Homo sapiens: one gene and its partner. Each later gene encodes a partner of the first gene's protein in a complex. Each region holds a gene or a part of one and is shown on either strand. Other genes may lie near its edges. The genes, in order: STX8 and VAMP2.

Evidence for each region.
Region 2: STX8 (region 1) and VAMP2 share a complex: the UniProt entries of both Homo sapiens proteins name them as parts of the SNARE core complex.

The regions. Positions count from the first base shown.
Region 1 is NC_000017.11:9,250,619-9,254,631, forward strand, and holds part of STX8 (syntaxin-8), read right to left. Parts: intron 28-4,013; coding exon 1-27. UniProt on the Homo sapiens protein: Vesicle trafficking protein that functions in the early secretory pathway, possibly by mediating retrograde transport from cis-Golgi membranes to the ER.
Region 2 is NC_000017.11:8,160,149-8,164,343, reverse strand, and holds the start of VAMP2 (vesicle-associated membrane protein 2), read left to right. Parts: upstream 1-1,395; 5' UTR 1,396-1,464; coding exon 1,465-1,466; intron 1,467-1,467; exon of another isoform or gene 1,468-1,892; coding exon of another isoform or gene 1,893-1,900; intron 1,901-1,974; coding exon 1,975-2,095; intron 2,096-2,577; coding exon 2,578-2,736; intron 2,737-2,819; coding exon 2,820-2,871; intron 2,872-3,472; coding exon 3,473-3,489; 3' UTR 3,490-4,195. UniProt on the Homo sapiens protein: Involved in the targeting and/or fusion of transport vesicles to their target membrane. Major SNARE protein of synaptic vesicles which mediates fusion of synaptic vesicles to release neurotransmitters.

The DNA of each region.
Region 1 (4,013 bases):
GCAGCAGTAAAATCACCATGATCATCCCTGGAAAAAAGCAGCAGAAAATACTACTTTTAATGATTCCTACCAGAAAAGCATCACACATTCTGAGTGTCTGCAGAGACTCAGAGGGATGTAGTTCCCTCTGAGCCTTCAGTTTGTACGAAGTGGAGAGAGGTGGTCGGTGGCCTGGGGCGCCGCTGCTGCTACACAGCTCTGGCTTTGCAGGATGCTGAGTGCAGAAGGCAGGGGCCTGGGTGTGGCCAGGCCCCCCCAGGCAGCACTCAAGCCAGGAGGGGGTGAGGCCCCTAACTCTAGCATCTGTGTACACCTTGGACCACAAGGGAGGGCGCAAGCTGCTGACGACAGCCACCCTCACTACCCAATCAGATTATGCATTGATGACGCATTGATAAAGCAAAGGGCTTAGGAGAGCATTCTAGAACCCATTTCTCCATTCTCCACATGGCTTCACTTTGTGTTCTTGAGTCCAAGATCCTTAAGTCACCCATTTGTAAAAATATTCACCGATAGAGGTGCTTGTTTTGATATATACTTTTTCTGCTAGTATTTGCTAGTTTCATTTCCTGACGTTTTTGGCTGGAGAGCACAGGCCCTCCTAGCCAGCCCATGCTGGGTGCCACTCTGCCTTCCAGCCCCGCCCTGCCTCCTCTGGGTCGTGTGTCTGCACTGACCATTGCCTGTTCCTTCACCTGATGCTGATGAAGTGGGCCCCACAGAATGCAGCCCTCACTTAGTGCAATGAGCTCACTGTCTCCCATGTTCGCTTGCCCAGTATTTAACGAGTGTTTACCACGTGCCAGGTACCAGCGGCGACAAGGTATAGCATAACAGAGAAGGGGCGCCCTACTACAAAGTAAGCACTCAAGAAAGGTTTGCTCACTGAAGAGTCCTTGAGCTGCCAAGGCCCCACGAGAGAGGTGGGTAGCAGAGGAGGAGAGGTCCATGAAAATGCTTCAGAAAGTAACAGGGAGAGCCACGTGTGCAGGGTCACATGGTTGCACAGCCATCAGGACTGCTGAACGCCACGGTAGTCTGTGGCATATGTTCGTGAGCAAAGAAAATGCTAAATTTCAATTAGACATTTGTGAACATAAGAGTCCAATTTGCTTTCCGGTCCAAGTTCACGGGCTTCCCGAATCCCCTCCACAGATCCTCAGGGTTCAATGTGGATCAGGCCATACCAATCTTAAGCTCAACCCATGTGGGCACTGCACCATGGTTTTGAATATTGAAGAGACTTAAAAATGTATGGCAAGTGGCTGGGTGCAGTGGCTCACACCTGTAATCCCAGCACTTTGGGAGGCCAAGGCGGGCGGATCATCTGAGGTCAGGAGTTCGAGACCAGCCTGACCAACATGGTGAAACCCCATCTCTATTAAAAATATATTTAAAAAAATAGGCCGGGCACGGTGCCTCATGCCTGTAATCCCAGCACTTTGGGAGGCCGAGGCGGGCAGATCATCTGAGGTCAGGAGTTCGAGACCAGCCTGGCTAACATGGTGAAACCCCGTCTCTACTAAAAATATATTTAAAAAATTGGCCGGGCGCAGTGGCTCACGCCTGTAATCCCAGCACTTTGGGAGGCCGAGGCGGGCGGACCATGAGGTCAGGAGATCGAGACCATCCTGGCTAACATGGTGAAACCCCATCTCTACTAAAAGTACAAAAAATTAGCCTGGCGTGGTGGCAGGCGCCTGTAGTCCCACCTACTTGGGAGGCTGAGGCAGGAGAATGGCGTGAACCCGGGAGGCGGAGCTTGCAGTGAGCCGAGATTGCGCCACTGCACTCCAAACTGGGCAACAGAGCAAGACTCTGTCTCAAAAAAAAAAAAAATATTAGCCAGGTGTGGTGGTGGGTGCCTGTAATCCCAGCTACTTGGGAGGCTAAGGCAAGAGAATCGTTTGAACACGGGAGGCGGAGGTTGCAGTGAGCTGAGATCACACCACTGCAATACAGCCTGTGCAACAACAGTGAAACTCTGTCTCAAAAAAAAAAAAAAAAGAAAACGAAAATAAAAAAAAAAACTAGGGCAAGCTTCTTTGTCATCTACCTGTGACTGTGGTTGCATTTTTCTGATATGGGCTCTTTCTCTGATGATCCAATCTTTTGAGAAACGCTTCTCTTGGGGCCCCAAGGTTTCTCCCCCGTCTTCCTGTAGATGAAAACCTCATCCTAGTCTACCTCAAGGCTCTGCCAACTTTGGTTCATGGGCCAAATCTAGCTGTGCTCTGTTTTTGTGCAACCCATGAGCTAACAATGGTTTTTATATTTGTAGAGGGTTGTCAAAAAGGTAAAAGGAGGAGATGTGACACCGTCTGTGGTCTGCACAGCCTAAACCGTTTACGACCTGGCCTCTTCCAGAGGCTTGCTAGCTCCTGCTCTCCATCATCATGATGATGACCCACCTGCAGCATCAGTTCGCCCACTTAGGCGCTGGCCTTCAATGCGCTCTTCATTTCTTTCATCTAGGGATTTCCTTTCTTCCTTGTAAATTCAGCCCTGCATTAACATTTGTGGGTGGGTGGAGTTACACTATTTTACCTCACATTTCAAGATGCTTGCAGCAAGAAGGCAGGGGTAGGGGTGTGTGTGTGTGTGTGTGTGTGTGTGTGTGTGTGTGAATATCTTAGTCCATCTGCAGTGAGAAGGTAGGGATACGGGTGTGTGTGTGTATGCGTATGTGTGTGTATGTGAGAATATCTTAGTCCATCTTCTTGCCAGAAGCAGAAGAACAAATCTTTTCACTGATTTCTGCTCCAGAAACATCTTCAGGTTGACCAAAAGCTCCCCTGGGCAGGAGCTTCACTAGTTCTTGGTTATTCTGGTGCCTGTGTGGTGATCAGCTGAAGACTTGGTCCTGGCTGGGTGAAGGTTTATGTTGCGCAACATGAGGAGAAGATAACGAGAATGAGGAGGCAGGCACAGGCTGGGATGGGGCGAAGGGGCAATCCCTGGCACTCCAGGGCCTGGGCTCACCCTAAGATGACAGGGAGGGGCTGGCAGCTGAGGAGATGAGGGAGAGGATGAGAGGTGTTTTAGGAAGAGGTACTGCTCCTGAAGCTCCAGTGGGATCACAGTTGGGAGGACACTTGGGCCCAGAAGCTCCATGCATCAAGGCAGGCTCCACACTGAGGCTCTGATGGCCTGGAGCAGAGGCCAGTATGAATGACCGTGAATTGTCAAATCAGGGTGATTATGAGAAGAGCGGAGCAAGTGACAAGAACAAAGAAATCAAGAACAACAACTGATTGGGAAGAAGAAAACACACATCTGGTTTTGGTTCATACACCCGGAGCGTGAGGTCCAAGGGAAGAGGCCTCAAGGCATGCGCAGTCACTGCCATCCCTGATTTGGCTCCCTGCAGTGAGGGACTGCTTTCCCCGGTCCCTGCTCCACGATGGAACTACAGCAAGCTTTTCAGAATGTAAAGGAGATCAGGTCACCTCCTTGCTTAAATCCTCCAGTGGCTGAAACTGAGATCCAAACTTTACAGTGGCCAAGGGGGTCTTGCACAGTCTGACCCAGCAACCCTGCAGCCGCACTCTGCGCGCTGTGTTTGAGCCATCCTGGCTGTCTCCGGTGCCCCCAACAGGCTGATGCAGAAGGTAGGGGCCCTGCCTCCCAGCTTCGACACGCGCTATCCTTTCCATCCGGGAGCTCCCCACTCGTGGTCTAGTTAATCCCTCAAACTCAGTGGCATTTTCCCAAAGAACTCTTTGTCATCCTCCAGTTACCTGTGCCCTCTTTGCCCCCCTAAGTTTCCATGGTAACTCTTATTAAATCTTTTTTTTTTTTGAGATGGAGTCTCGCGCCCAGGCTAGAGTGCGGTGACGTGATCTTGGCTCACTGCAGCCTCCGCCTCCTGGGTTCAAGCAATTCTCCTGCTTTAGCCTCCCAAGTAGCGGGGATTACAGGTGCCCACCACTATGCCCGGCTAATTTTTGTATTTTTAGTAGAGACAGGGTTTCACCATGTTGGCCAGGCTGGTCTCGAACTCCTGACCTCAA
Region 2 (4,195 bases), 1.1 Mb from region 1:
AAGGCCATCAGCCTCCCTGCACCTTCCAGGGATGTAGTAAGCACCCCCACCCCAGGGCCAAAGGGCCTCGCCTAAAATGCCTCCTGCACCCTTGAGGCTTGCTTTGACCCCCTGCACTCCACCAGAGCGACAGCTCCCCTGGTCCCATCTTCTCTGACAAGCTGGGTGGGAGTGTATACAGCTGCTGGGTGTGCTTAGAGGGCCTAATGGAGACCAGCCAGGGATAATCTCCTATGTTATCCACATCAAGCCATTTAACAAATATGGATTTAGTACCTACATATGCAATGTATTTGGGGTCCAGAGAGAGGAGGGCAACGGTCCAAGGTCACACCTGCGAGGCGAATACGCATGTAAAGCAGCACCTTGTAACCTGTGCCCACTGTGCCTACTACTAAAGAAAAAAAAATGAGAGAAAAAGAAAAAAGGCTTTTTTTTTTTTTTTGGCCCAGGCCCTGTGCCTGGGACCAAAGCCTGAGCCCTTTCCTGCAGTCGGGTCGCTGACCTAAGCCTGGGGCAAAGCTAGGTCTTGGCCAGTCAGCAGCCACCACGTGAAGCAGCCCCTGCCCCCATCACCCCCGGCAGCCTTGTGCCCTCCTCCTCGGGGTCCTCAGCTCACCCCACCTCAGTCGGGCCTGCTCCAGCGGTTAAGTACCCCTAGTCTGAACCTTAATCGTGAGGCGGGGCAGCCCCCTCCCCACACCCTGTAGACACTCCCCCGTCCTCCGCCCCCTGGACTTGTTTGGGCGGGAAGAGCCTGCCTCATCTTTTCTTCCTACCCTCCTACCCAGTGGCCAGGGACCCCAGGCTTCCTCTGAGACATCCACCAGCGGTGATGGGTTGGGACCAATCTCCCCCACTCCTCTCCACCCTAGCAGTAAGGTCCCCGCTCTCGATACTGCCCCAGCACCTGCACTGGCCCTCTCTGATTTCCCAACTCCAGCCCATTCCAAGTGCTGAAGGCGGGTCGCTAGGTGCTGGGACCTGGGCGCGGGGCAAGACCTTGGGCTGTGTGGGGTGCAGGCTGGTTTACTGGGTTCACGATTGAGGGAGTGGTCTGGGGGTTAGGTGTAGGGCCAGGCTGCGTTGTGCTCTAAGGGGCAGGCGGCAGGCGGTTTGGGGGGGCTGTGGTCAGACAGGGTGGGGTGGCGGTGGGTTTGGGGAAGCCGCAGCAGCCCGCCTTGGGGTCCCGCGAGTGCCGAGGGAGCTGCCGGGGCATGGTGGCGCGGGGCCCGTGGTCCTGCCCGGCACGACCCCCGCCCCGCAGCGCCCCGCAGCGCCCCGCCCCCGCGGCCCCGCTCGCGACGCGTCTCCCGCGGCGCCCCGCCCCCGCCCGCAGTGCCCGGATGCGGGTGACGCGCGGCCGCCATCTTTCCGTCCCGGGCAGCCAGCGCCAGTCGGAGCCAGCGCGAGCCGCCGCCGCCATCACTGCCGCTGCCAAGTCCTCCACCCGCTGCCCCCGCCATGTGAGTCGGCCGCCCGCCACCCTCACCGCGCTTCCCTGCGCCGGCCGCCGCCCTTGGCAACCGGCCGTCGGGAGTGCCCGGGGTCTCTCCTGCGTTCCCCGCGCCCCGGGGCCAGGCCCAAGCCGGTGACTGCGCGCGGGCGGCCGAGGAGCCCCGCGTCCCGGGCTGGCCGGCTCGGGCGATGGCCGCGGGAAGGAGCGGACCCAGTGTCCTCCTGCCCCTCCCCGCCCCTGTCACCGCGGCCGCCTGTCTTTTCGGGTCGACCCGGATCGCATCTGTGAGGTCGCCCTCAGTTGACAGGCGGGGAAACTGAGGCCGGGGGGGCCTCGCTCAAGGTCACGCAGCTCATCGGCGGCAGGGCTGGACCGAGACCAGGGCTTACATCGGGTGGCCTTCCTCCCGAAAAGGAGGACTGGAGGGACGAGGATGGACAGGTGGATGGGCGGAGCCCTGGCTGCGGGGCCGGGAGGCTGCAGGCCCTGGGTCTTAATCCGTCCCTGCTCCTCAGGTCTGCTACCGCTGCCACGGCCCCCCCTGCTGCCCCGGCTGGGGAGGGTGGTCCCCCTGCACCCCCTCCAAACCTCACCAGTAACAGGAGACTGCAGCAGACCCAGGCCCAGGTGGATGAGGTGAGTGTGGGGGGAGTCAAAAGCAGTAGGAGGGACCCTGGGGGTTGGCGTATAGGTGTAGGGGCCCATGTTGGTTTGGGAGTGATGACAGTTCACGCCTGTGGGTTTGCGGACAAAGATACCATGCCCCATCCCTGTCTCCCTGTCAGCACGCACTTGGAAGGGCGCTGGGGGTGTTAATCAGCTTTGCTAGCCTGGGGTGTGCCAGCCTGGGCAGGTGTGCTCTGGTGATGGACAGAGCGCCTGAGGTTCCATAGAGGGAGGGTGTTGCTATGACATCTGAGATGTCACCAGCATGCCCCTGATGTGTGCTCCTTGCATGTCCCCAGGTGTGCTAGGCATGTTCTGTGTGTCCTTGGCATGTTAACCTGGCAGTATCAGGGTGCATGTTCCATGTGTGGCACGGTGGGCACATGTTTGAGGATTGCCCTCACTGAGGTGGGCCTTGGCACACCCCCCTGCCTCGTGGGCCCTTCTCCCAGGTGGTGGACATCATGAGGGTGAACGTGGACAAGGTCCTGGAGCGAGACCAGAAGCTGTCGGAGCTGGACGACCGTGCAGATGCACTCCAGGCGGGGGCCTCCCAGTTTGAAACAAGCGCAGCCAAGCTCAAGCGCAAATACTGGTGGAAAAACCTCAAGGTAAGGGTGGGGACAGGAAGGAGGACAGGTGGGTGAATGGGGTATCATAGTTTGTCTTACTGATCCTCGCCTCTCACCCCCAGATGATGATCATCTTGGGAGTGATTTGCGCCATCATCCTCATCATCATCATAGGTGAGTAGGGTGAGAATGGCCGGGGCCCTTTCCCTGGAGAGGTTTCCCCAGTGGATTCTAGGTTTTGAAGGTCATTAATCTAGTTTTTACTCTTCAGCCAAAAACACATATAGCTGCTAATGGCAATTCTGATTCATCTAGAGCCAAAAACTTTGATGTTATTTAGCCTGCATTTTGCCTAGTTCTTGGCAGTCTTGTTAACATTTGGAAATAGGAAAGCTGGTGTATCCATTGAGGACCCTTTAGGCCTAAGAGCCCAGTCTGAGAACCCTGGAATTGAGGAGTGGGAGAAAGGAAAGGACCAGGGGCTTGAGACATGACCAGGAAGCCAACCACCCCATTATTTGAGAGCTTGCGGTCTCAGAGGCTCAGAGGATTAGGGTCTGTGGCTTCAAGGCCATACCATGGAGCGGAAGGGACCTCAGAACCTACCTGTCTAGCCCCTTGCTTTGTAGATGGAAAAACTGAGTCCAAGAGAGGGTGTCAGCCAGCTGGGGAGTGGGGAGGATTGGAGCAGGGCCAGGCCTGACACACTGCTTTCTTGTTCTCTCTCTTTCTCTCCCCTCTCCCTCTTCCTCATCTTCTTCCCCTCTCTCCACAGTTTACTTCAGCACTTAAATCCCCGAGGAGTCTGCCCTGCCTAGAGAAGGGCCTCTCCCCCAACCCTCAGCCGTTCCTCCACCTCTCAGCCATATCTTTCAGCCCCCACTCCCCTGGATCCGTGTGTGTGTGTGTCCGTGTGTGTGTCCCCCTGTAAATAGCCAGCTGTTATTTATACATATATAATATTATATATATTTGGTCTGTTTGTAGTTTTATTACTAGATGATTTTTCCGGTTGTCCTTAACACCCCTTCCTGAGGTTCCCTTCACCCCTCTCTCTTGCCTTCCTTCCCTTTCCCTTTCTTCCTGACTAGCCCCAAGTCCCTTCATTTGCATCTGCTATGCAATAGTCCCTCTCCTTTCCTTCTTCTTCCCTCAGATTTAGCTGATCCTTCCTCCCACCCTGGCCTTCCTTTCCTCTTTCCTCCTCACTCTCCCCGTCATGCTCCCTCTGCCCCGCCCTCAAAAAAAAAAAAAAAAAAAAAAAAACAACAGCACCTGTCCAGGCTTCCTTAGGTACATCTTCTTTGTATCCATTGGGAGGCTCTGAGACTGGCCCCACTTGGTCCTAAGAATCCCAAGGTCTTTGGGAGCGTCCAGCATGTTAATTAGCGTATCATTACATACTGCTATCCCTTTCCATTTCTTTTTGTTCCATCACTCTTCTCTCAACCTGTGTTTCTTTTTTTACTGAGGAGTTAGTCCCCATTAGTTCTTGTAT